Homo sapiens: one gene and its partners. The protein of the gene in region 4 purifies or fractionates together with the protein of the main gene of each other region. This does not show direct contact. Each region holds a gene or a part of one and is shown on either strand. Other genes may lie near its edges.

What was found.
Region 1: the proteins of RMP64 (region 4) and RPP14 purify together in Homo sapiens (affinity purification with mass spectrometry; 2 studies listed by BioGRID and IntAct, with this or other methods). This does not show direct contact.
Region 2: the proteins of RMP64 (region 4) and POP1 purify together in Homo sapiens (affinity purification with mass spectrometry; 2 studies listed by BioGRID and IntAct, with this or other methods). This does not show direct contact.
Region 3: the proteins of RMP64 (region 4) and RPP38 purify together in Homo sapiens (affinity purification with mass spectrometry; 2 studies listed by BioGRID and IntAct, with this or other methods). This does not show direct contact.

The regions. Positions count from the first base shown.
Region 1 is NC_000003.12:58,316,203-58,320,693, reverse strand, and holds the end of RPP14 (ribonuclease P protein subunit p14), read right to left. Parts: intron 4,180-4,491; coding exon 4,103-4,179; intron 3,780-4,102; coding exon 3,701-3,779; intron 3,255-3,700; coding exon 3,198-3,254; 3' UTR 3,081-3,197; coding exon of another isoform or gene 2,574-3,080; 3' UTR 501-2,573; downstream 1-500. Other genes in the region: HTD2 (hydroxyacyl-thioester dehydratase type 2, mitochondrial), read right to left, coding at 2,574-3,080. UniProt on the Homo sapiens protein: Component of ribonuclease P, a ribonucleoprotein complex that generates mature tRNA molecules by cleaving their 5'-ends.
Region 2 is NC_000008.11:98,127,278-98,134,319, forward strand, and holds part of POP1 (ribonucleases P/MRP protein subunit POP1), read left to right. Parts: intron 1-317; coding exon 318-485; intron 486-1,087; coding exon 1,088-1,263; intron 1,264-2,700; coding exon 2,701-2,949; intron 2,950-6,671; coding exon 6,672-6,759; intron 6,760-7,042. UniProt on the Homo sapiens protein: Component of ribonuclease P, a ribonucleoprotein complex that generates mature tRNA molecules by cleaving their 5'-ends. Also a component of the MRP ribonuclease complex, which cleaves pre-rRNA sequences.
Region 3 is NC_000010.11:15,100,346-15,104,790, reverse strand, and holds the end of RPP38 (ribonuclease P protein subunit p38), read right to left. Parts: intron 2,574-4,445; 5' UTR 2,455-2,573; intron 1,487-2,454; 5' UTR 1,477-1,486; coding exon 625-1,476; 3' UTR 534-624; downstream 1-533. UniProt on the Homo sapiens protein: Component of ribonuclease P, a ribonucleoprotein complex that generates mature tRNA molecules by cleaving their 5'-ends. Also a component of the MRP ribonuclease complex, which cleaves pre-rRNA sequences.
Region 4 is NC_000003.12:113,002,659-113,009,700, forward strand, and holds part of RMP64 (nucleolus and neural progenitor protein), read right to left. Parts: intron 5,773-7,042; coding exon 5,513-5,772; intron 3,373-5,512; coding exon of another isoform or gene 3,347-3,372; coding exon 2,878-3,346; 3' UTR 1-2,877. UniProt on the Homo sapiens protein: May play a role in cortex development as part of the Notch signaling pathway. Downstream of Notch may repress the expression of proneural genes and inhibit neuronal differentiation thereby maintaining neural progenitors.

The DNA of each region.
Region 1 (4,491 bases), about 55 Mb from region 4:
ATAGTAATTTGAACAACAATTTGACAATTCTTTATAATATTAAAGTTACATGATCCAGCAATTCCACTCCTAGAATTTAAAACCTGTCGGCCAGGCGCAATGGCTAACGCCTGTAATCCCAGCACTTTGGGAGGCCGAGGCAGGCAGATCACGAGGTCAGGAGATCGAGACCATCCCGGTTAACACGGTGAAACCCCGTCTCTATTAAAAATACAAAAAATTAGCCGGGCGTGGTTGCAGGCGCCTGTAGTCCCAGCTACTTGGGAGGCTGAGGCAGGAGAATGGCCTGAACCCAGGAGGAGGAGCTTGCAGTGAGCTGGGATCGCACCACTGCACTCCAGCCTGGGCGACAGAGCAAGACTCCATCTCAAAAAAGAAAAAAAGAAAATATATATATATATATATATTTAAAACCTGTGCACATAAAAACCTCTTCTATAATGTTCATAACATTATTTTTAACAGCCCAAAAGCGAAAATAATCCAAATATCAACTGATGTATGGGTAAATACAATGGAATATTATTCAGCCATAAAATAAAATGATGTACTGATACATGCTGTAACATGGATGAACCCTGAAAACATGCTATATCAAAGAAGCCAGTTCCAAAGGATCATACATTGTATGAACTTTTATGAAATGTCCAGAACAGGGAAACCCATAGAGACAGAAAGTAGACTGGTGATTCCCAAAGACTGGAGGAGAGAAATGGATTGACTGCTAATGGGAGGTTCTTTTGGGGGTGATGAAAAATGCTATAAAAAATTGATTTGGTGATGGTTGTACAACTTTGTGGATATTCTGAAAACCACTAAACTGTACACTTTTAAAAGGTGAATTTTATGGTATGTGAATTATATCTCAATTTTATTAAAAAACGGGAAACAAAAAAAAATGGGAAACAAAAGTGTTGGCTGTGTTGGGATGGCCATTTAGTAGTAACATGTTAGGCACATCTCCCCTTCAATATAACCTCCCTGACCCCAGCCCCCAAAGTCTTAAGAATTTGGCCTCCATAATCTTCTTAATATTTATTTCTTACAATTTTTTTTTTTTTACTATAAGCATGTATTACTCATAATAATGGGAGGTAGATCCAAATTTTCAAGGAATAATCTGAACTTTTATAACAGAAACTGTACTTAAGAACACTAATAGAGGTTGGCTGACACCCTGAAAAACTGGTCTGTTACGTTTAACTGTGGGCCAGTCAGCTTCAAACTCAGGAAAACCTCTCACCTCAGTTGCAGGGGAAATGGGCAACAATAATAGTAGCTACTGCTGACAGGCTGGGCCCTGTGCTTAACTCCATCTATCATCTCCACCAACTATCCCACATGGCATGTGCTACCACTATTTTACAGATCAGACCGTTTACATAACTGAGACCGAGGATGCACATACGCCCCTCCCCTGAAACGCAAGTCTCACTGAAGGTAGACTAAGATGCCACCTTGGTGTAAATAACAAATTACAATAAACTCTGACTCAGATACTGAAGAACAGTCTAAAAATATTCATTGATAAAAGGTAGGTGTTCAAAGATGACCCAACTTCTATTTTCGCCTTCAATAATTGTTACACAGTTAAAATACAGTGACAAGCTGCTTCCACATGGCTATAGGTAGGGATTTGTTATCCAAATGCAAATCTATCTAGGTCTGAATTTCTAAAAGTAGAATCTTTTTTTTTTTTTTGAGGTGGAGTTTTGCTCTGTCACCCAGGCTGAAGTGCAGTGGTGTGATTTCAGCTCACTGCAACCTCCCAGGTTCAAGAGATTCTCCTGCCTCAGCCTCCCAAGTAGCTGGGATTACAGGTGCCCGCCACCATGCCCGGTTAGTTTTTGTATTTTTAGTAGAGATGGGGTTTCACATGTTGGCCAGGCTGGTCTTGAACTCCTGACCTCAAGTGATTCGCCTGCCTCAGCCTCCCAAAATGCTGGGATTACAGGCGTGAGCTGCCACGCCTGATTTAAAAGTAGAGTCTTTAAATAACCTTCCCAATACTTCTTTCTTGAGACAGGGTCTCGCTCTGTCACTCAGGCTACAGTGCAGTGGTGCAATCTCAGTTTCTCACCATAACCTCCAGCTCTCAGGCCCAAGCAATTCTCCCACCTCAGCCTCCCAAGCAACTGGGACTACAGGGCCAAGTCACCAAGCACAGCTAGTTGCACTTTTTTTTTTTTTTTTTTTTTGGTAGAGATGGGGTTTCACCATGTTGGCCAGGCTGGTCTTGGACTCCTGACCTCAAGTGATCCGCCTGCCGCAGCCTCCCAAAGTGCCAGGATTACAGGCATGAGCCACCGGGCCCAGCCTACTTCTTGAATTAAAAAACAAAAAACAAACAAAAAACCCAGGCAGATAATGAAATCCTGCATACACTCAAGTCTGCATGAAGCATAAGGCCAAACTGGAAAGTGGGCATTTGAACAACCCTCTTCCTGCTCCCTTCCCCTAACTAAGATGGGCTTCTGGGCCTATCAACCATTCTTTGGTAAAGAGCAGCAATTCCCCATAGGCTCTTTAACAACAGCATTGGTGTTTGAGGTTGCATCTTTAAAACATCTATTTCAGGATTTGGAAGCTTCTGGAACCATAACTTTAACCCAGCCTTCCATAACAGTCTTTTTACTTTCTATTACAGAACATGACACTGCAATAATAGCAATGAACCGCTTCAGCTTTTTCACTTCTGCAGAAGCTAAAACAACTTCTCCAATATATAAAGGGGCTGGAAAGCTAATTTCCTGGGAAAGAAATACACAGCCTGGCCCTGGCATTTTAGTTCCTAGGAGAGCTGAGATAAGTCCGTTGATCAAAACTCCATGTACAATTGTATTTCCAAACTTGGTGTGTTTTGCAAAGTCTTCATTCAAATGCAAAGGATTGACATCCCCTGTTAATTCTGAGAAGGTAGCCACATCAGTCTGTGTGAAGGCCCTCCTAAGTTCAGCGCGGTCTCCAACTTTGATGTGCATATGCTGAAAGTGCTGCAGGGTCAGCACTGGCAGGTTCAGACAGACTGTCCTCCGAAGCCCACCCCACCAAAGGTGATGGCTGGAAATTAGTGGGAACATCTTCAGCACCCTCAAATTTCATCAAGAGCTTTTAGCCTGCTTCAGTCTTCAAACATGCAGGCACCAAAAAATAAATATGAGAGTGGATGAACGTTTCCAAAATGGAAGACTATTCATTCAATCCAATACTAGTTCCCTACTATTACCAGATAATGCAAGAAGAAATGGAGAAACCTAGAAGAGAAAGAAAAAGGTTAAGGCATTGGGAGAAACCACACTGAAGCACAGGGCAATGGGGAAACATGCCCAGTTTTACAGGATAAACAAAGCTGATGCAGGAGCATTTTACAGAGCATCCTGAGAGGAAGCCTTCGATAACAAGTGGTCACATCTCAAAAAGAGCGTACCAATATATAACACACAAGGCATTAAGTGTTAAATAAAAAAAGTAAGCCTTAACCACAGGGTTGCAAGTTTTATCCCAAAACATCTCCCATAGATTTTAAAATCTAAGTGCTCTGTCTCACATTTTTGGAAACAATCAAGTCCTTTATTTTCCCCTACTTAGATCATTTTAACCATATTACATTTATGCAAGCACAAAAATGAGTTGTGTATATTAAGAAGCAGTTGACCCATCACTCAGTCTTGTTTGGAATATGTGAGGGAATAGTCTTTACCTGAATCACCCGGAAAGCACATTTTTTGCCTTTATAGGATCCTAACAGGGTCAAAGAGCTCCACAATTTGACAAGACCACTGCAGAAAGATCAAGAAAATACATAGTGTGTCATAGACAGAGAACAAAATGAACTTCAACTAAGGTTTCTAAAATATTCACTTCTGACTTTGCAACTATAACCATCAATGGGAAAACTACAGCTGTAACCAAATCGTAAGTTTTGCCCTCTCTAGAGTACAAGTTTCTGGTGGATGAATGTTCATATTCATCCCAGTTTAAATTCCCAAAAGCTGCTCAGAGTTCACAACAAAAAATTTATTCTCATTCTCAGAAGAGAGCATTTTTGCTCCATCGGTCTCTCTGCCCTGTTATACTAGAAATTTCCCACTCTCTGTCATACCTGCTACATATTCTCAAGATGGCTGACAAGGTCTTCTCTTCATAGGTTAGGATGTCCAAAGGTAAGGCGGCATCAACCTGCATATGGAATAATGCTATTAGCAGGCTATTCTCACCATTATTCTTGAATGCTTGTCAACTTTTGACAACAAATGAGTTTTGAGCTTTTCTCCTCCACATAAGCAGTATTTTATTTAATGGTGCTGGCACTTTAGTTGCCTACTTACAGCTCCCCCTGCCTAGAATGTTCTGCCTACACCTCTTCATATGGCTGATGTCTCTCATCCTTTGAGCCTTCATTTAAATTGTTCCTTGACTGATCTTCAAGATGAGACAAAGTCAGCTTGCTATGTTCTTTCTTGTACAGGACACCATACTTTCTCTTTCATA
Region 2 (7,042 bases), on a different chromosome or scaffold from region 4:
GCAGGGAGCTTAGATTTGAAATTCATGTTGCACCGTTTATAGGAGAAAATTTCACCTGTATCTGTTATATCCAAGGTCCTTTATATGTCATCCTGACATGATTACCTTGTGTGCTACCTACTAGCTTTGTGACCTCGAGCAAGTTAATTCACCTTCCTACGTAAGATTCCTCTTTAAAAATAAGTAGTAATAGCCACCTTACAGGGTGACTATAGGATTAAAAACATGGTCAATGTTGCCACCCAACAAATATTAGTTCTCCACTATAATGTTTATCTCTGATAAAGGTGACATGTTTCTTTTTGAAAATATACTAGAGCCTCATCCTGGAACTTCACGACAGCGGCAAACCAGAGTCAACCCCCATTCTCTGCCTGACCCTGAAGTGAATGAGCAGTCTTCCTCCAAAGGGATGTTTAGAAAAAAGGGAGGATGGAAAGCAGGTCCCGAGGGCACGTCTCAGGAGATCCCCAAGTATATAACTGGTGGGTACTCATAAAGAGGTGCAGTTTGCTTGTATTTTGAACTCTCGTGTCTAGTGCAGCAACAAACTGCCCTCCTTGTGGTCCTGGCTCTGCCTCCCCTACCTCTCCTCTCCTCCTCCTACTTTAGACCCTTCTCGCCTCTAGCCTGGACTTTGGCCAGAGCTTCCTTGGGCTTGATGGCTCTCCCTTCTTCAGTTTCTCTCCCTGTCTCTTACTCTTCTTCTTACAAGTCTTTGTGAACTGTTCCTCTTTGTCTTAGCCCCCGTGCCCCTCTTGTTTTAAATATGCCATCCACACTCAGCACAGCATTCTCCAAGGATGGAAAATTGAGTACACACAAATGGCAACCAAACCTTTATTTAAAGGGCCTGTCTCCAGGCCCTTTCCATCCTCTTCTGTTCTTCACCCTATGATCCCCATCCACACTACCACAATTAAACCCTATATTCCTTGTACCTTGTACCTATACCTTAGATATGCTTTCTGGTCTCTCTTTACGCCTTCTTGGTGGAGGAATTCAGTTAAGTTTCCCCAGCAGCCTGTTTATTCTCCAATGTTAATTCAAGATTGGTGTTTAATGACTTTGTCATCTCCTTCAACAGCTTCTACTTTTGCTCAAGCACGAGCTGCTGAAATCAGTGCTATGTTAAAAGCTGTGACCCAGAAGTCTTCGAATTCACTGGTTTTTCAGACTCTGCCACGGCACATGCGACGAAGAGCCATGAGCCACAACGTCAAACGCCTTCCCAGACGGTTACAGGAGATTGCCCAGAAAGAGGTAGGAGTTCCACTTAGTGTAAATGTTTAGATTAGTAGCTCCTAGAAGAAATTGAGAAGTATTGACCTAATAGAATTTATTAAAAATGAAAACCAAGGCTGGGCATGGTGGCTCACGCCTGTAATCTCAGCACTTTGAGAGGCTGAGGTGGTCAGATTGCTTGAGCCCAGGAGTTCAAGACCAGCCTGGGCAATATGGCCTAACCTTGTCTCTACAAAAAAATCCGCAAATTAGCTGGGCGTGATGGTACATGTGTGCCTGTAGTCCCAGCTACTTGGAAACTGAGATGGGAGGGTACCCTGAGCCAGGGGAGGTTGAGGCTGCAATGAGCTGTGATCATGCTACTGTACTCCAGCCTGGGTGACAGTGAGACCTTGTCTAAAAAGAAAAAAAAAACTCAGAAAACATCACCCTTATGGTTTTTGTTTTTGTTTTGCATATATTTGATTTAATCATTATCCAAACTTCTTCCCTTCAAACGAAATTCACAGGCAATTGGCTATTATGGGTGCTTTGAAATATAGGATTTGATACTCCTCTCTTGTAAGGGTGTTGAATAGTTGATGTTCCCTTCCCAGATGTTAAAAAAAAACTCTGACCCTCTTACCGAGTGGTTTTGGATCTGTGTTTCTAGGGTGTGCCCAGCTTGGGGTAGGAAGGTTAAAAAAAAGCAATGTCAATGCTTAGCATTTGCTTTCTGACTTTTTCGAAGTTGAAAACTTGAACTGGGTTTTAATTTTTGTACAAGTCTAATTGTGTTTTGGCTTCACCAGAATTCTAGACTTGAACATTCTAAGATTAAGCCCATGTCTTTACTAATTGGTTTAAAACCTATTTATTGAGCAGCCTTCTATGTACCATTGCTATGCTGGTGGTGGGGTTTGAGTTCAAGAGGGAAAACTAACAAGGAATTTTATACTTTCTAGATTTAATATAAAATCTGTTTCCCAGTGATAGCATTCAGCATGTGTATGTCTGTAGCTTAACTGAGATGAAATGTATGGGTTTTCCTCACTTGTATTATTTTTGGTCTTAAGTTTTTGGTTTTAGTTACAATTCTACAGGTTAAAATGACAACAAGAAGCTAGCATTTGATTTCTTCTTTCTTGCCCTCTAATACTAATAGCCATATTAAGCTTGTGTTACTGTGTTGAACATTTTATAAGTATTCTGATCTTCATATTCCATGAAACTTGCCTAGTTAGTGAGTGATGGAACTGTGCCTCCTTCCTAGGTCTCCTAGCTCTAAAACATTCACTCTTTCCATTGTCTTCCTTCTCTACTTACATTGAAGAAACTAAGTTAACAATTTAAGCAAACTAATGGGATCTATAAAATATTCCACTTAATCTAAAGTTATTTGTTTGCATTCCTGACCGTTAACTCTGTTTTGAGATTCTTACAAACTGGGATATGTCCCTCTACTTGAAACTATAGGCGGAGAAAGCCGTACATCAGAAAAAAGAACATTCAAAAAATAAATGCCATAAAGCTCGAAGATGTCACATGAACCGGACGCTAGAATTTAACCGTAGACAAAAGAAGAACATTTGGTTAGAAACTCACATCTGGCACGCCAAGCGGTTTCATATGGTCAAGAAGTGGGGCTACTGCCTTGGGGAGAGGCCAACAGTCAAGAGCCACAGAGCCTGCTATCGAGCCATGACGAACCGGTGCCTCCTGCAGGTGAGCTTTTCCAGTGGGCTTTTTTTGTTATTTTTGTTTGATCCTTTTCCATAGAGGCCTTTAGAATAGTTTATGATGTGCCAAGCCCCGTTTATGTGATTATTCATTTTAAAAATAATTCCTGAGCATGAAGCCCGGGTCCTTTGCCAGATGCTGGAGATCAGGCAGCCTAAAGTTAGGGGGGTGACTGACATTAATCAAACGATTTACCAGATATGTGGTTGTAAGGGAAAAGCATACAGTATGATGAGCATTTCTAACCTAACTGGAAGGCGTCCCCCAGAAGTGCTGTTTGAGCTGAGCTCTAAGGGATAAGATGGGAGGAGAGGGGGAAGGCAGAAGGAAGCCAGGTGAGAGTGAAGAACTGGAATCAATTCTGTGTGACAGAGAAGAAGAGAAGGAGAACAAGGCAACATCAGGGCAAGGTTAGCCTAGAGAAAAGAGTAGGAACCAGGTCGTGCAGGTCTTGTTGATCATGTCAAGTTTTATTCACTATAGATTAATCTAACAGTCGTTCATCAATAACAGATATTTGAGAATCAACTGTGTACCCTGAACAGGGTTCAGAATGCTGGTCTAGGTGTTTATGGGTCAGTGGGATGCTGGGAAGGATGTTTTAAATTTTAAACGCTTTGAGAGGACAGATTATGTTAGAGCCTCTTAATAGTATTTATCTGATTGCTCCCTCCTCTCAGAAGCTAATTCAGTTGCTTTCTATTTCTTCCAATACATACTTAGACATTTGTTCTTTGCAGAAGGGCCTATCTTTCAGTGGCAGAATGGCCTTGGCCAAATTTTGAAAGCCATTACTATTGGTGTCCTTTGATACCCCTTGAGAGTAATGTGGTAGAATAAGCAATACAAGAATCTTTTTAAAAAATTGTGGTCAAATATACATAACAAAACCATTTGACCATTTTAAGTGTATAGTTCTGTGGCATTAAGTACGTTTACGTTGTGTAATCAGTACCACCATCCATCTCCAGAACTTTTTTATCCTTCCAAACTGAAACTCTCGACTCATTAAACACTAACTCCCATTCCTTCAGCCCCTGGCAGCCACCATTCTATTGTCTATCCAATAATTTGATCCTATAGGTGCTTCATAGGGGTGAAATCATACAATATTTGTCTTTTTGTGACTGGCTTATTTCATTTAGCATAATGTCTTAAAATTCATCCGTGTTGTAGCATGTGTCAGAATTCCCTTCCCTTTTAAGGCTGAAGATGTATTCCATTGTAGGTATATACCGTATCTTGATTATTCATTTATCTGTCAGTGGACATTTGGCTTACTTCCACCTTTTGGCTATTGTAAATAATGCTGCTGTGAACATGGATATGCAAATATCGTTACAGTCCCTGCTTTCAGTCCTCTTGAATATATCCCCAGAAGTGTAATTGCTGGATCATATGATAATTCTATGTTAATTTTATGTTTAATTTTTTGAGGTACTGCCTTACCATTTTCCATAGCAACTGTATCATTTTACATTCCCACCAGCAATACACAAGGGTTCCAATTTCTCCTCATCCTTTTCAGTACTTGTTACTTTATTTATTTATTTGATCACAGTCATTCTAATGAGTGTGAAGTGAATAAGAGGACCTTTTAGGAGTCTTTGATTTGAGAACTCAGCAGCAGAAATCATAGATAATAGTCAAGTTCCTCATTCACATTGAGGAAGCTGGGTTCTGGAGAGATGAAGTGACTTGCCTGGGCTCACACAGCTTGTTGGTGGCCTACATAGCACTTGGGTGGCTGATTCCCCTGGCTTGTGCTTTTTCCACTGTCCTCTGCCAATGAGTTACTTTTCATTTTGGGCATAATTTTTGCTGAAGTTATCAGATATTTTCTCTAAAATTTGATCAGCCCTAAGTAATAAAACTAATAGCTAATAATAACAAATATTAGTGAGTGCTTAATATATGCCCTACCCTGTTTTAAATGGTTTGCATGTGTTTACTCATTTAATCCTCAGAATAGTACGAAGTAAGGAGTTACCATTATTTCCATTTTACAGATGGGGAAACTGAGGTACAGAGAGGTTAGGTAGTTTACCCATGATTGTATGGCCAATGAGTGTTGAGGTTCAGATTTGAGCCCAGTTGCCTGACTCCAGGGTTCCACACTCTGAACCATTATTCTCTGCTGTCACTTGTTTGGGTGAGGTTCCTCTGGCCACTGACAGCTGAGAGCTGGTCACTGGATGGGAAGATTTCTTTGTGTGAGTGATCATATTGATTGACATGCGTTGTCAGAATCATAGCTATAATTTCCCTTTTAGTTCTAGTTACTGAGTGCACTGAAATTGCTTAAAGATGCTATAGCAGAAGGGTTGGTTTGGCAGATCACTGAGCCTGATTAGAATGCTGGCTTCTCCACTTAATGACTGTGTCTTTGTTCAAGTAACAATCTCTGTGTCACAGTGTCCTTGTCTGTCAGATAAGATAACCATACTAGGTACATCTGGTTGTCAGGAAGACTAAATGACTGTTCATGTAAGGAGTTAACTCATTGCTGGCACTCAGTAACCCTTCAATGACTATTAACTATTATAGGCCAGGCATGGCAGCTCATGCTTAGAATCACAGCATTTTGGGAGGCTGAGGCAGGAGGATTGCTTGAGCCCTGGGGTTCAAGACCAGTCTGGGCAACATAGTGAGACTCTGTCTCTGCAAAAAAAAAAAAAAAAAAAAAAAAATCTGGGTGTGGTGGCTCGTGCCTGTAGTCCCAGCTACCTGGGAGGCTGAGGCAGGAGGATTGCTTGAGCTCTGGGGTTCAAGACCAGTCTGGGCAACATAGTGAGACTCTGTCTCTGCAAAAAAAAAAAAAAAAAAAAAGCTGGGTGTGGTGGCTCGTGCCTGTAGTCCCAGCTACCTGGGAGGCTGAGGCAGGAGGATTGCTTGAGCCCAGGAAGTTGAGACTTCTGTGAGCTGTGATTGCGCCTCTGTACTCTAGCACTGGCAACAGAGTGAGACCCTGTCTCAAAAACAAAACAAACTGTTAGAATTATTATTATAATTATTATTATGGATACTATAACTATTGAAACTTTTAACATTGATTTCATTAGCTTAGTCTGATCTCTCTTCATCTTACTTGAAATTGTATGTTATTACTTTTACTTTCTTTGTACTGTGCTTAAAGTTGCATATCATGGTCAAGACTGAGTATGGGAGAAATATGGGATGGATTAATTGCAATATTGTATCTCTAGGCTTAGTGTTAAGTAATCTTGAGGTCCTGAATTAGCTAACCAAATTGAGCAACCTGAGCATAATTTTGCAGAATTCATTACTGTTTTGCTTATTTTACTCTGGTTTCTTACCTTAGGTAGACTTTGGGGGTGAATGGTTCTCTACTTAGAGGCAACAGTTATGTACCCTCCGTAGAACCTGTCTATGAATATGGGATAAAACATAGATTACCTAAAAAGTAGGATACCGTAACTTACATTTTAAATGGAGATTCATTTTTATTTTGGTTCGGGTTGGTTTAAAAATATTTGTTAAGGTGACAGGAATGGACAGGTTTAGATATTTTTTCCACTAAACCATCGGGCAGGAGAAGGTTTAGATTTTGACTTATGAGAACATAGCTTTAGCAATTTGTTTTGTGTCTTAGGCCTCTAAAGGTTTTGTGATACGGCTTTTGGCTTCTTAGCAGTTTTGCCTGTGTAAATTCCTAAGTACTTAATTGTGTCTCCCGCTTTGTGCAGGATTTATCCTATTACTGTTGTTTGGAGTTGAAAGGCAAAGAGGAAGAAATACTAAAGGCGCTTTCTGGAATGTGTAACATAGACACAGGTAAACTTGTTTTAAAGCTGAGTTCTATTTTAGTCTATGTATATTTATTCATTTCATAAAGAAGTGTCTACTGTAAGCATTTTGGAATTCAAACATATAGAAAAGTGTGTGAGACACTAATCATTCCCAATGAAAATGTTAACTTAAAAACAGTTGGGTTGGCTTTTAAATAATTTCTAACATTGTCAAGTGTAAAGTGATAGAGTCATTTTTCTGGTGGAGTGAACTTGACAGAAAGAAACTTGAAGCTCTCATTACTCATTTAACACATATTTGTTGAGAA
Region 3 (4,445 bases), on a different chromosome or scaffold from region 4:
GGGTGCAGTGAGCCGAGATTGCGCCGCTGCACTCCTGCCTTGGCGACAGAACGAAACTCTGTCTCAAAAAAAAAAAAAAAAAGGCCAGGCACGGTGGCTCGCAGCTGTAATCCTAGCACTTTGGGAGGCTGACGTGGGCAAATCACGAGGTCAAGAGACGGAAACCATCCTGGCCAACATGGTAAAACCCCGTGTCTACTAAAAATACAAAACTTAGCTAGGCATGGTGGTGCGCACCTGTAGTCCCAGATACTTGGGAAGCTGAGGCAGGAGAATTGCTTGAACCCGTGAGGAGGAGGTTGCAGTGAGCTGAGACCGCACCATTGCACTCCAGCCTGGACAACAAGAGTGAAACTGTCTCAAAAAAAAAAAAAAGAAAAAGAAAAAGTCAATTTACACACGCATGAACACTAGTTTCAATAAATGTCTGTTTGGCTATTCCTAATTTTGAATATTTCCTGCACTTAGTATATCTGTGCCATAGTTACAAAGAGTCTTACACATTTGAATATTACCAAACAGGACCCTATGAATCTATGTAAGTATAACTCATTTTATTAGTTTCAAGGCTTCTTTACAAGGTGTCCTTTCACAAACTGTATGACATGACAAGTTTATGCAAGATTACTTTGGAGTAGCTTTTTTACTTTTGGGTGGTTTCCTTATCTTATTAGGGTTTGGAATCAGTTTCTTTATTTTAAGGGGTTGTAATGTTACAGAAGCCTGCCGACCGTCAGCAAGCTTTCTCTTAGGTTTTGACAGATCTTCAAATGAAGTGTCCAAAAGCTCTCTGTCTTGGCTTTCCAGAGGTTCAGTCTCTAAATTTTCCCCAGAATCTTCAATTCTGTCTTGAAGCCATGGTACACTTAAACTGGGGACTCTGGGGATGATGGCTCTTACTTCGTCCACAAAGTCAGTGGTGTTCTTTTTGAACGCCAAGGCTAGAACACATTTTAAGCCAATGACGGGGGCGATTCTCTCACTGAGCCGGGGGACCTGACAGGCAGGGACACTTCTGCTTAGGCTTAACTGAATCAAGTGTGAGGTGATCATGGCAGGCTTGACTGATTTACACACCAGAACTAACAGCAGTTCCCTCCTTTCCAGGGCTCTGGTAACTTCGTTAACGCCAATGGCAAGCTGCTTCCTGACGTGTGCAGGCGTCCACCCTGACACTTGCTGCTTAGCATCTGTTTTCTTCTCCTTCAGATTCTCACTAATATCAACAGCAATGCTGCATTTCTCTCTGCTTTCTTTTTTCAGAAAAGGTGTTTTGTTCTTTTTCTTCTTATCTTCAATCTTCTGAAGTCCAATAGCTTTAAGCCTGTCCTCAAGCGTCTGTAGGATGAAGTGCATATCCTCGCTCTCCAGAGCGCTCCAGCGGATGATGTATGGGTTGTTCAACGACGTCTTCACAACCAGAGGTCTCGTCTTACGGAGAGATCCCCGCCCCGGTGCTTGAGGAGCTGCAGCCATTTTGAAAATCCTTCCAAGAAGCAAAATGACAACAGAAAAAATTCATGTTAGCGACAACTGCATGACTTAAGAATATCTTGACTGTACTCTCTGATTCTTATTTATTTATGTATTTATTTTTTGAGACAGAATTTCACTCTTGTTGCCCAGGCTGGAGTGCAGTGGCACAATCTCAGCTCACTGCAACCTCCACCTCCTGGGTTCAAGCGATTCTCCTGCCTCAGCCTCCCGAGTAGCTGGGATTACAGGCGCCCGCCACCAAGCCCAGCTAATGTTTCTATTTTTTTTTAGTAGAGACAGGGTTTCACCATGTTGCCCAGGCTGGTCTCAAACTCCTGACCTCAGGTGATCCACCCACCTCGGCCTCCCAAAGTGCTGGGATTACAGGCATGAGCCACTGCGCCCGGCCTGTACTCTGATTCTGGATAAGCTAGAGCAAGCCTGATTATATAAGTCCAATTAGGTGAGCATACGCTTGTCTTCCTTTTAAAGATTAAGTAATTTTATTTTTCCCCATTTTTCTTACCCGATTTTGAATGCTCTACGAAGGCTCTTTAAAATACTCAGGACTATGGGTGAGTAGTGTTTAATTTTCCCCATTTTTTTATATGACTTTGTCTTTATTCCTATACAAGCAATATGTGAAAGTTTTAATTATTGCAATCATAGTACAATTCCATTTGTCTATTTCATTTATTAAAAATATTCTGTTTCTACTTGTTCATAATTAACCTTCTAGTGACTGTATGGTATTAATCTTCTAACTTGTTACTGTTTTCCAAAATGCTATCTAGTTGGGCTTCCATGCATTCACTCAACAAATATTCTAGGCCTGGCACACTGGCTCATGCCTTCAGTCTCAGAATTTCGGGAGGCTGTGGTGGACAGATCACTTCAGCCCATGAGTTCGAGACCACTCTGAGCAAATGGAGAAACCCTCTACAAAAAATACATAAATTAGCTAAGTGTGAGGCGTACCTGTAGTCCCAGCTACTTGGGAGGCTGAGGTGGGAAGATCACTTGAGCCCAGGAGGTCAAGGATGCAGTGAGCGTGATTGTGCCACCACACTCCAGCCCAGTAACACATCTGACCCTGTCTGCAAAAAAAAAAAAAAAAAAATGATCTGAGCACCTCCAGTATGCAAGTGGTGTTCTAGGTCCTGGGGCTCACAGTAAGCAAGACCCGATGTCCACCCACGTAGAGCTCCCAATCTGCAAATACTCTGGTGGCCTCTGCCATTCACAACCAATCAGGTGTGATATTTTAAAGAACTGAACAGTCATCTCATGATTAAAACTTCAAATAACACTGTCACGTCCACTTTTGTAAGTCTCCCCACCTCCCAGGGCCCTAAATTTCTTGAATATCCTTCCTACAGCATTTGATACATATGCAGGCATACACTCCCTTTTTTTTGTTTTTTGAGACGGAGTTTTGCTCTTGTTGCCTAGGCTGGAGTGCAATGGCATGATCTCAGCTTATTGCAACCTCTGCCTCCCAGATTCAAGCGATTCTCCTGCCACAGCCTCCGGAGTAGCTGGGATTATAGGTGCCCAACACCACGCCTGGCTAATTTTTGTATTTTTAGTAGAGATGGGGTTCACCATGTTGGCCAGGCGGGTCTCGAACTCCTGACCTCAGGTGATTCACCCACCTCAGCTTCCCAGAGTGCTGGGATTACAGGAACGAGCCACCACTCCCGGCCAGTCCTCCTTTTTAGGGGGACCCCGAGCTGACTTCTCTGGCTGGCAATTCCATGAAGACTAGGGAAATGTAATGAAATTTAAAGATACTAATCCATTGAGGAAAAATGAGTAGAAGGATGCTTAATGGGGAAAATGTTATAAACTATTGGTCCAGAGGGCATATCCTTTTATCCTTCCCAGAGGCAACTACACACTCCCTTCTCTTCCCTCAGTTTTCTTCCCTTCCTTCCTGGGGCTCAGCTAGAATCACAGGGACCCACCTGGCAAAACTAAAGGAAGTTATATCCTTTGCATTTATACTACCACTTACTAGGCTGGCAGCTGATGTTGAAGGCAAGTGTGTCTGTGCAGTGTATCGCTGTATAAAGCACTCTCTCCATGTATTATTTGCTTCTTACAGCATTCCTATAGAATCCCCCAATGTGTGCATTAGGAAACTGACTCACTGCCTAAAGTCACAACTAGTTTTCCAAATCCAAGTTTTCTGTTCTTTCAATCCTTGCTACACCTCAAAAATAACCTGTGGCTTCTTAAAACATGCAGATGCTTGGTCCTCAACCCAGATCTACTGAATTGGAATCTTCAATAATAAGGCCTGGGCATCTGTGCTTATAAAAAGCTGCCCCAGGCCGGGTGCAGTGGCTCACGCCAGTAACCAAAGCACATTGGGAGCCCAAGGCGGGCGGATCATAAGGTCAGGAGTTCGAGACCAGCCTGGCCAATATGGCGAAATCCCGTCTCTACTAAAAAATACAAAAAAATTAGCCAGGCATGGTGGTGCCTGCCTGTAATCCCAGCTACTTGGAGGCTGAGGCAGGAGAATCTCTTGAATCCAGGAGACGGAGGTTGTAGTGAGTCAAGATCGCGCCACTGCATTCTAGCCTGGGCGACAGCAAGACTCCATATCAAAAAAAAAAAAAAAGTTGCCCTCGTGAATCTGATTCAGAGCCGGAATCAGGAACCACTGGTGTAGGACAGGGTGTTTCCACACTGGACAGCCCCGAGAAAGGGCCCCCTGAGCGCTATTGGTCTCTGATATTCTTCCCAGACACTTTCCCACAGAAAAGCCAAATTCAGCTCCTTAGGGTGAGAGATCACACCCTGGTCATCTCGGTACAGCAATCCTGGAGACTTCTGGGGCCTAAGCTGCTTCCTTCACGGTGGCCACACTGTGTCCCCTGACCCCATTATCTCTATGCTCCCCTAGAGCTCAGGAAATCAGGAAGAAAAGTGGCTCATCCAGATGCAATGCAGTGACTGTG
Region 4 (7,042 bases):
GTGTGTGTGTGTGTGTGTTCTTTTAATAGATAAAAGTAGAAATCTTAGAGGGCATTCCAGGAACTGGTTATCAGAAGTCAACATGGTAGATTAGCATCCAAGATGGAAGTTACTTTAGCCTCATACTGTGCCTGTGAATTTCTTTGAGGAGGGGATGGGGTGGCCCCACACCTCTTCCAGGTTGTACATACCCAAGTGCTAGGCAGTTCCTGTAGCTGGTGAGAAGCCCAGGGGCAGGAAGTGAGACATCCCCAGAGCAAGAGGCAAGGTTCAGCCCTGCTTGAAACTGGTTGCCACAGCAGTGACTTTAGTATGAAGGCCAAGAGGATTGGAAGTGACACACAGGAGGTCTCAAACACTGCTCTTATAAATGGCCTGTGTGTCCTAATGCCATCAGAAGTGATAAAGTTGGTACTAGGATGTGGGTAATCCCAGCACTTTGGGAGACCAAAGTGGGTGGATCCCTTGAGTCCAGGAGTTTGAGACCAGCCTAAGCAACATGGTGAAACCCTATCTCTACACAAAGTTTTTAAAAAATTAGCCAGGGCATGGTGGTGCCTATAGTGTCAGCTACTCAGGCGGCTGAGGTGGGAGAATAGCTTGAGCCCAGGAGGTGGAGGGTGCAGTGAACTGAGATCATACCACTGTGCTCCAGCCTGGGCAACAGCACAAGACTCTGTCTCAAAAAATAATAATAATAATAATTCACTACGATGACCCTGACAATAGTTTCTAATCTCATTTACTAGGTAAGTTACAGTTTGGTATACTTTAGATTGCATTTTTTTAAATGTTAAATATTTGGATTTATTTGGAAAAAGTAACTGATACAGAATACTGAATTCCTTATAAACATACAAATTGTCATTTTGTGGACACATGTGAAGCTTTTTTGCCATTTTCCCAGAATAGTAAAGGGCAGAAGATGGGAAAATGAGAGGAGATGAAGATACTCCAAAAGAACATGAATGAATTTGGAAACAAATGCTAGACTGGCAGCCCAGTCCATGCTATATTGTCCTTAACTCACTGAACCACCCTGGTTTTTCCAATGAAAGATAAGCTCCAAAGTTTATTTCAGCTATAAAAGTTTCATTCTTGAAAAAATTCCACTTCAAATCCAGAAACCTAAGCCTGAGGAAACTGACTAGCTCAGTGAAGCCACAAGTAGGAGAAGCAAGACTGAACCTTAAATCTCCTAATTCCCAGGGAGTTTTTTTCTGAATCAGCTAAATGAAGTATTAAAAGAGGCTACTTAGGGGACTGGGTGCATGAATATAGACAACTCTCAGCAAATAAGCCCTATGGTCCACAAAGCTATACACCAGTTCTCTTACTAATTTACCTTCTATTTCCCAATAGGTAAAGGATATTCATTGAACACAAGGACACTTAGAAGTTAATGGCCATTTCTAGACTTGTCTAGAATGAAATCTCCTTGGTATTGTCTGTATTTTAAGGCACTAAATGGATACTACCACTTGGTAGAAAGCCAAAAGGAATATGAAAACTGACTACAGATTAAGAATTAAACCAGTTTACTTAAGGCTTCAGGAGAGAAGCTAAAGTAGTGTTTATATAACTGGATTTGGGGGCCACCTGGATCAAAATCACTTGGGCTCCATGTTAAAAATGCAGGTTTCTGGCCCCTGTTTATCAGTCTCTGGGAAAGGGCTAATCTGCATCTTTTAGCAACCCACCAGGTGATTCTCAAAAAGTCTAAAGTTTGAGAACCACTGGTAGAGATAACTGAGAAAATGGAGAAGGCAGACAGGGAAAGAACAAAGCCAAATAAAGAATGGAAGGGAAATAACTTCTGTTATGATAGGGTGGCTGAGGAAAAGAAGGATGCGGTACATACTAAGGTACTACTTTCTTTTTCTTTAAATCTCTATGTAACAAAAGTTAAGGGCACTAGAGAAGCTTAATAACCTAATTCTAGTAAAGTTAGAACATTGGAAAGATACCTACCTCAAACTTCACATCATTATTTGAAAATACTCAAGATGTACTCCCCTCAGAGCAACAGTACGAGCAACATCCCCTATCAGATGACAGCATCAACACCAAATTATAAATGTTCTAGCCTCATTCCTGGGTCTACTTTGTATCTCCTAACCTCATTTTTTCATTTTACTTTCTCATCTACCTGTTATCCTATTATATTTCATATGTAACCATAAACCACCTTATTGCCTTTTTGTAAAAAGGTTTATTTGGAATCAATCACTGGTACCCAAATAAATAAAATTAAAACGTTTTGGAGAACTCCAAACTCACTTTAATATGAGATAAGCCAAGCAAATGAAGAGAAATAATGGTTGTAACCAGTCCCTGGTAATACAAGCAGTGGCAAACCTTGTTGATCAATTCCAACATATAAACAAGAAAACATAAATGTCAGGAGCTACAAACTTTAGTATTCAGAGGCGGACCTATGTATAATGGAGCCAATAAGACCAAATTGACCTTTCAGGTGTTTCCTTGCTATCTCCCACCCCCGCTCCTCATTTACCTCAAGACACAATGGTTTTTGCAAACGATTATTAAATTGCCTAGTAAGTCATAAAATTATTCAGTTTTTCAGAGACTTACTAGCCTCACTCAAGGAATTACATCTGCTTCTCAAGGGTAGGCTGTGGCAGATTTTTCATATTAACACCTGACATGTAGTTGAAGCCAAAAAAGAAATACTTGTTGATGAAATGACACAATGCTACTTTAAATGTAGACTGAACTGAAATGAACTCCTGTGCAATGCTGCACTAAAGCAGCTCCTCTGTGAGTCCAGGTGGTACTTCCAGATCTTAGCAGTTCTACTTAGAACACTGAACTAGCCTTGTTAATCACTTAAAAGTCTCACATATGAACGAACATCTAAACTCCCATTAAAGCAAAAATATCATCAATGTCATCTGTCTCCTTAATGGTTCCTGATGTACTGTTTTTATTTATTTGCATCACCGTCCACGAATCAGTTTCATTTTCATGGATGCCTCTAAGATTTTCATGAATCATTTTCTCCTTAGTTTGTATGACAGGCATTGAAACTCCACTATTCAAGAGCTGCTTACTGTTAGGGTAGAGATCAGTTCTATGCACAGTACAGTGTGAGAGTCTCCACTTAGCACTGGTATCTGTAGCACTCTTCCGAGTCCCTTGAGAGAACTGCTGAATTTCCCTTAAAAGAGTCGACTGCAACTTTCTCTGTGGTTTCCTTTGTCTCCGTAAAAATTTATTCTGTGATCTTCTCTGTCTCAGATGATGCTTTGAAGTTTTGATACCTGAGCCACGAAGAAGGTGGTTGCAAATAGACGTTTTTATGCACTCTAGTTTCTTTGGCAAACTTTAAAAGACAGAGAGAGGAAAAATCTGGGCTTAAGATGAGAAAAACATTCTCAAGCACTTTTAATTTACCAACTGAAAAGAAAAATACACAACTTATCTACAAGTCCTATGCCTGTGTACAATCCCAGAACCACATCGAAAAATTTCACCCCAAGTCTGTTTTTTGAGAGCACAAATGCCCTCTGATTGAAGTGTAGACGAATGTGTCCCCATTTTGCTTTCAAACTCTCAAAAGTACAGCCGCCTAGCAATTAGCTGAATGGCGAGATACCCTATACTTTAGTGTCAGAGCTTTTCCCTCATAACTGCTAATCTGTTCATAATGTAATGAGTGGACATGAGGAAACATCACAAATGAAAAAATCTGCCAGTACGTATTAATCCGAATCTGGATAATCAGCTTCATGCTGTGGCAGGAAATGAACAAGGAAAAAGGAATAAAGGCTAAGAGGGGTTTATAAAACAATATGAAGACAGGGCTTCTGGCCCAGATACACAGACAGCCTTAAGCTACCCTAATTATGATTCATATGTCATCTTCAAGTTTGGAAATTCAGAAATCAAACAGCTGATCATTTTAGGTGTTTTGCTTCCACACACGGTACACTGCCACAAGGTTCATCAGTGCCTTGCTGAATTGTTTCACTGTTTGTGATAGATTTTAAAAGACGGGCATGGATATAAAACTTTGAGGAAGCCCATTATAATAAAGTAAATCATGATCTTTGCTTCCATACCATTTTCTTATCTCACTATAAGCAGTGGCTTTTAAGTGGGGAGAAGGTGGGTGTACTTCAGAGTTGAAAGGAAAACAGAGGGCCTGAACTGAGTTCCACATCTAACCCCTTGAGCAAAATCCTCCATTTACCCATCTATGAAATGGGAATAATACTGTCTACCTCACAATGTTATTATGGACATTAAATAAATTATAAAGTTTACTACAAATATATTAATGAAACAGCAAAACAGGGCAATCTATGAAGGAGCACTATATCTGGGGGAGTACTGAGTAATGGTTTAACCAATAAACACCAGTTTGCTACCCTTCTCATTAACTTTTAGTTGTTACCTCTGCCTCATCTACCCTTGATTTTAAACCCAATTTTAAACAGAATGCTTCTCTCCATCTCAGGCTGCGTCTCCAGCCATAGGATACATCACTTTTAGATTATTACAGACCTTTAGAGGAGCCATCTCAATGTAAAAACCCCTCAAGCACTTTATCCCTCAGGAATATTCAACCACTTTCCCCATAGCTTTTAATCAAAATGTGTTACAAAACCCTCACTGTATACTTTTTTTTTTCTAAAACAGGAATATATTTTATGCAAATTTTAAAAGAAAATTTAACAAATTTTCAATACGTGGTTCATCCCCAGGAATGAACTTTAAATCCCTGAATAGCTCTAAACTATGGATAAGAAATTATGGGGCATGCACAGGATATTTGTTAAAGAATACAATAAAAAACAGGTCAGAATAATTGCCTCTGTGAAGGTGGAATAGGCTCTTAATACATATTTGTGTCTGAAATCATTACCGTTAAGCCCTGAAGTGTCTAATGTCTAAATTCATGTAATACTTCATGCAATACTGGTTCACAAGCAAAGATAAGCACCCTTAAACAGTTGTGAATATAAAAATCACAGAAAAGAAATATAGATAGAGTCCAGCTGCTACAAACAGTAGCAAGTAGCAACAGTACAACACCCCAGCAGTCTTGTGTGGGCCTCATGGAAGGCAGGCACCTTCTGCTTCTGCTCTCATGCCCTTATCCCACTGCACTGCACTGAAGCTGTCTGCAGAAGGGCTGCCTTTCCCAGAAGACCCTGAGCTCCCTGAAGACCAAGTCACGTCTTTATGCAGTTGTATCCTCAGGCTCAGCACACTAGACACTCTTAATGGTTCCTGAATGAGCTGATGGAAATGATGAAGAGCATAACGGGGACTGAAGTCCAATTAACTTGTTTATCTTCTTCCTCCAATGATACAGCTTTGCTCTTACAATAAAAGCAGCAAATGCAATTGCAGTTTGAGTACATCCCAATTTAGCCCCGCTGCGGCTGCTGGACATCACATTTTAAAGAAAAGTGACCTGAATACTTTTACTCATAACAACAACAGAAAAAGTAAAGTAACATAATTTTTGCAATATACCTACCTAGTACCTTGAGCTTCCAGATGTTTAAGCCGGTTGCTTTTAAGAAGTTTGTTACCCAGAAAAATGGCCTGAGCCTTGAGTTTTTTGCTCCTGCACCATACAACTGCCATCTGGATTTCTTCAGAAAGTTGTGTGAAGGACTCAGCCTCTCGGAATCTTTGCACAAAACTTTTGGCATGAGGAGTTCCTATCACTTTCTGAGAAGAATACTTGGTTGTCTTTAGTCTGGATTGAGAACATTTAAAATCAAAACTGGTCTCCTGAAACGTGGAAAGATGAGAAAAATATATTGGACATGTTACTGACTTGTAATTATATGACAACAAGGAAAGCTAGCTCACAATCAAAATTTAAAAATTAGAATTATCAGTCCCTAAATGCTTGAAGTGATGGATACCCCATTTACCCTGTGGTTATTATGCACTATATGCTTATAACAAAATACGTACCCCATAAATATATATACCTGCTACGTACCCACAAAACCTAAAAATTAAAAAAAAAAAATCAGTCTGTAAGGAAATTTTTTTGCTCACTAAGCTTTCCTTATGTCTTTAAAAACTGAATTTTTCTCCACTGCTCCAAATACAAGTTGTTTTGTTCCCCCTCTGTACCAGGACAGGTCCCATCTGCAGCTGAATTAGATTGACATAGGAAAGTTAACATAAATATCCTAACACACATATCTCACATACACAATAAAAAAACCCCACATGATTAAATACTGGTCAAAGCCTAATTGCAGAGGGTTGGGGGATCACTGAAAGGCCCCTCTTCGCTACACCACCAGATTATCACGACTTGTTTTTCACTTATTTCCGTATCCTGGGCAAACCTCCTCAATTTAGAAATGTTTCTGAAAACAGGGAAGATATGGGGCCCTGCAGAGTGCCCAGCAGAATAAGCCCATTAATCAGTTAATGCCTGCTGAATATCTATTAAAAATGCTCAATTGAGCAACACTTCCAATTCTACTTCAACCATCTTCTGACAAGGCACCTTTACTTCTTCAACCCCTTCTTTCTATATCAAGTCACATTTGGATTTTACTAACGTTTACTATTTCTTTATGAAAATATGCTGCCTACGAGATGATCTGCTCTTTCATTCAAAGCTTACCTTCTTCCAAATTTCTTACACTCAAAAGGAACTTTAAAAAAAAGTAGAAAATATAAAAGTAATGACCCAGGTCAATAGTTTATGTTTGGTGATCAATAGAAGTAGTTTGCTTTAAAGCTAAGCAAGTTAGTGCTATTTGCTAAAAATATAGTAGCAGTTAGTTTTGAGTAAGAGGGATGCTGACCCACCAACTTCAAAGCCAGCTCACCTACAAACAGGTGCACAGGCTGCAGAAGTTTCAAGGTTCACAAAGCACCATAGTTCTTGAGATACAGTTGAAAAACTGTTCTGGGGACTGGTGAATAGTAAAGAAGAAAGACTATGAAACCATACTGCCTGCATTCAAATCGCAGCTCTACCATTTATTCACTATGTGGCCTGGCAGTTTCTTGGCCTTTCTATGCCTCAGTT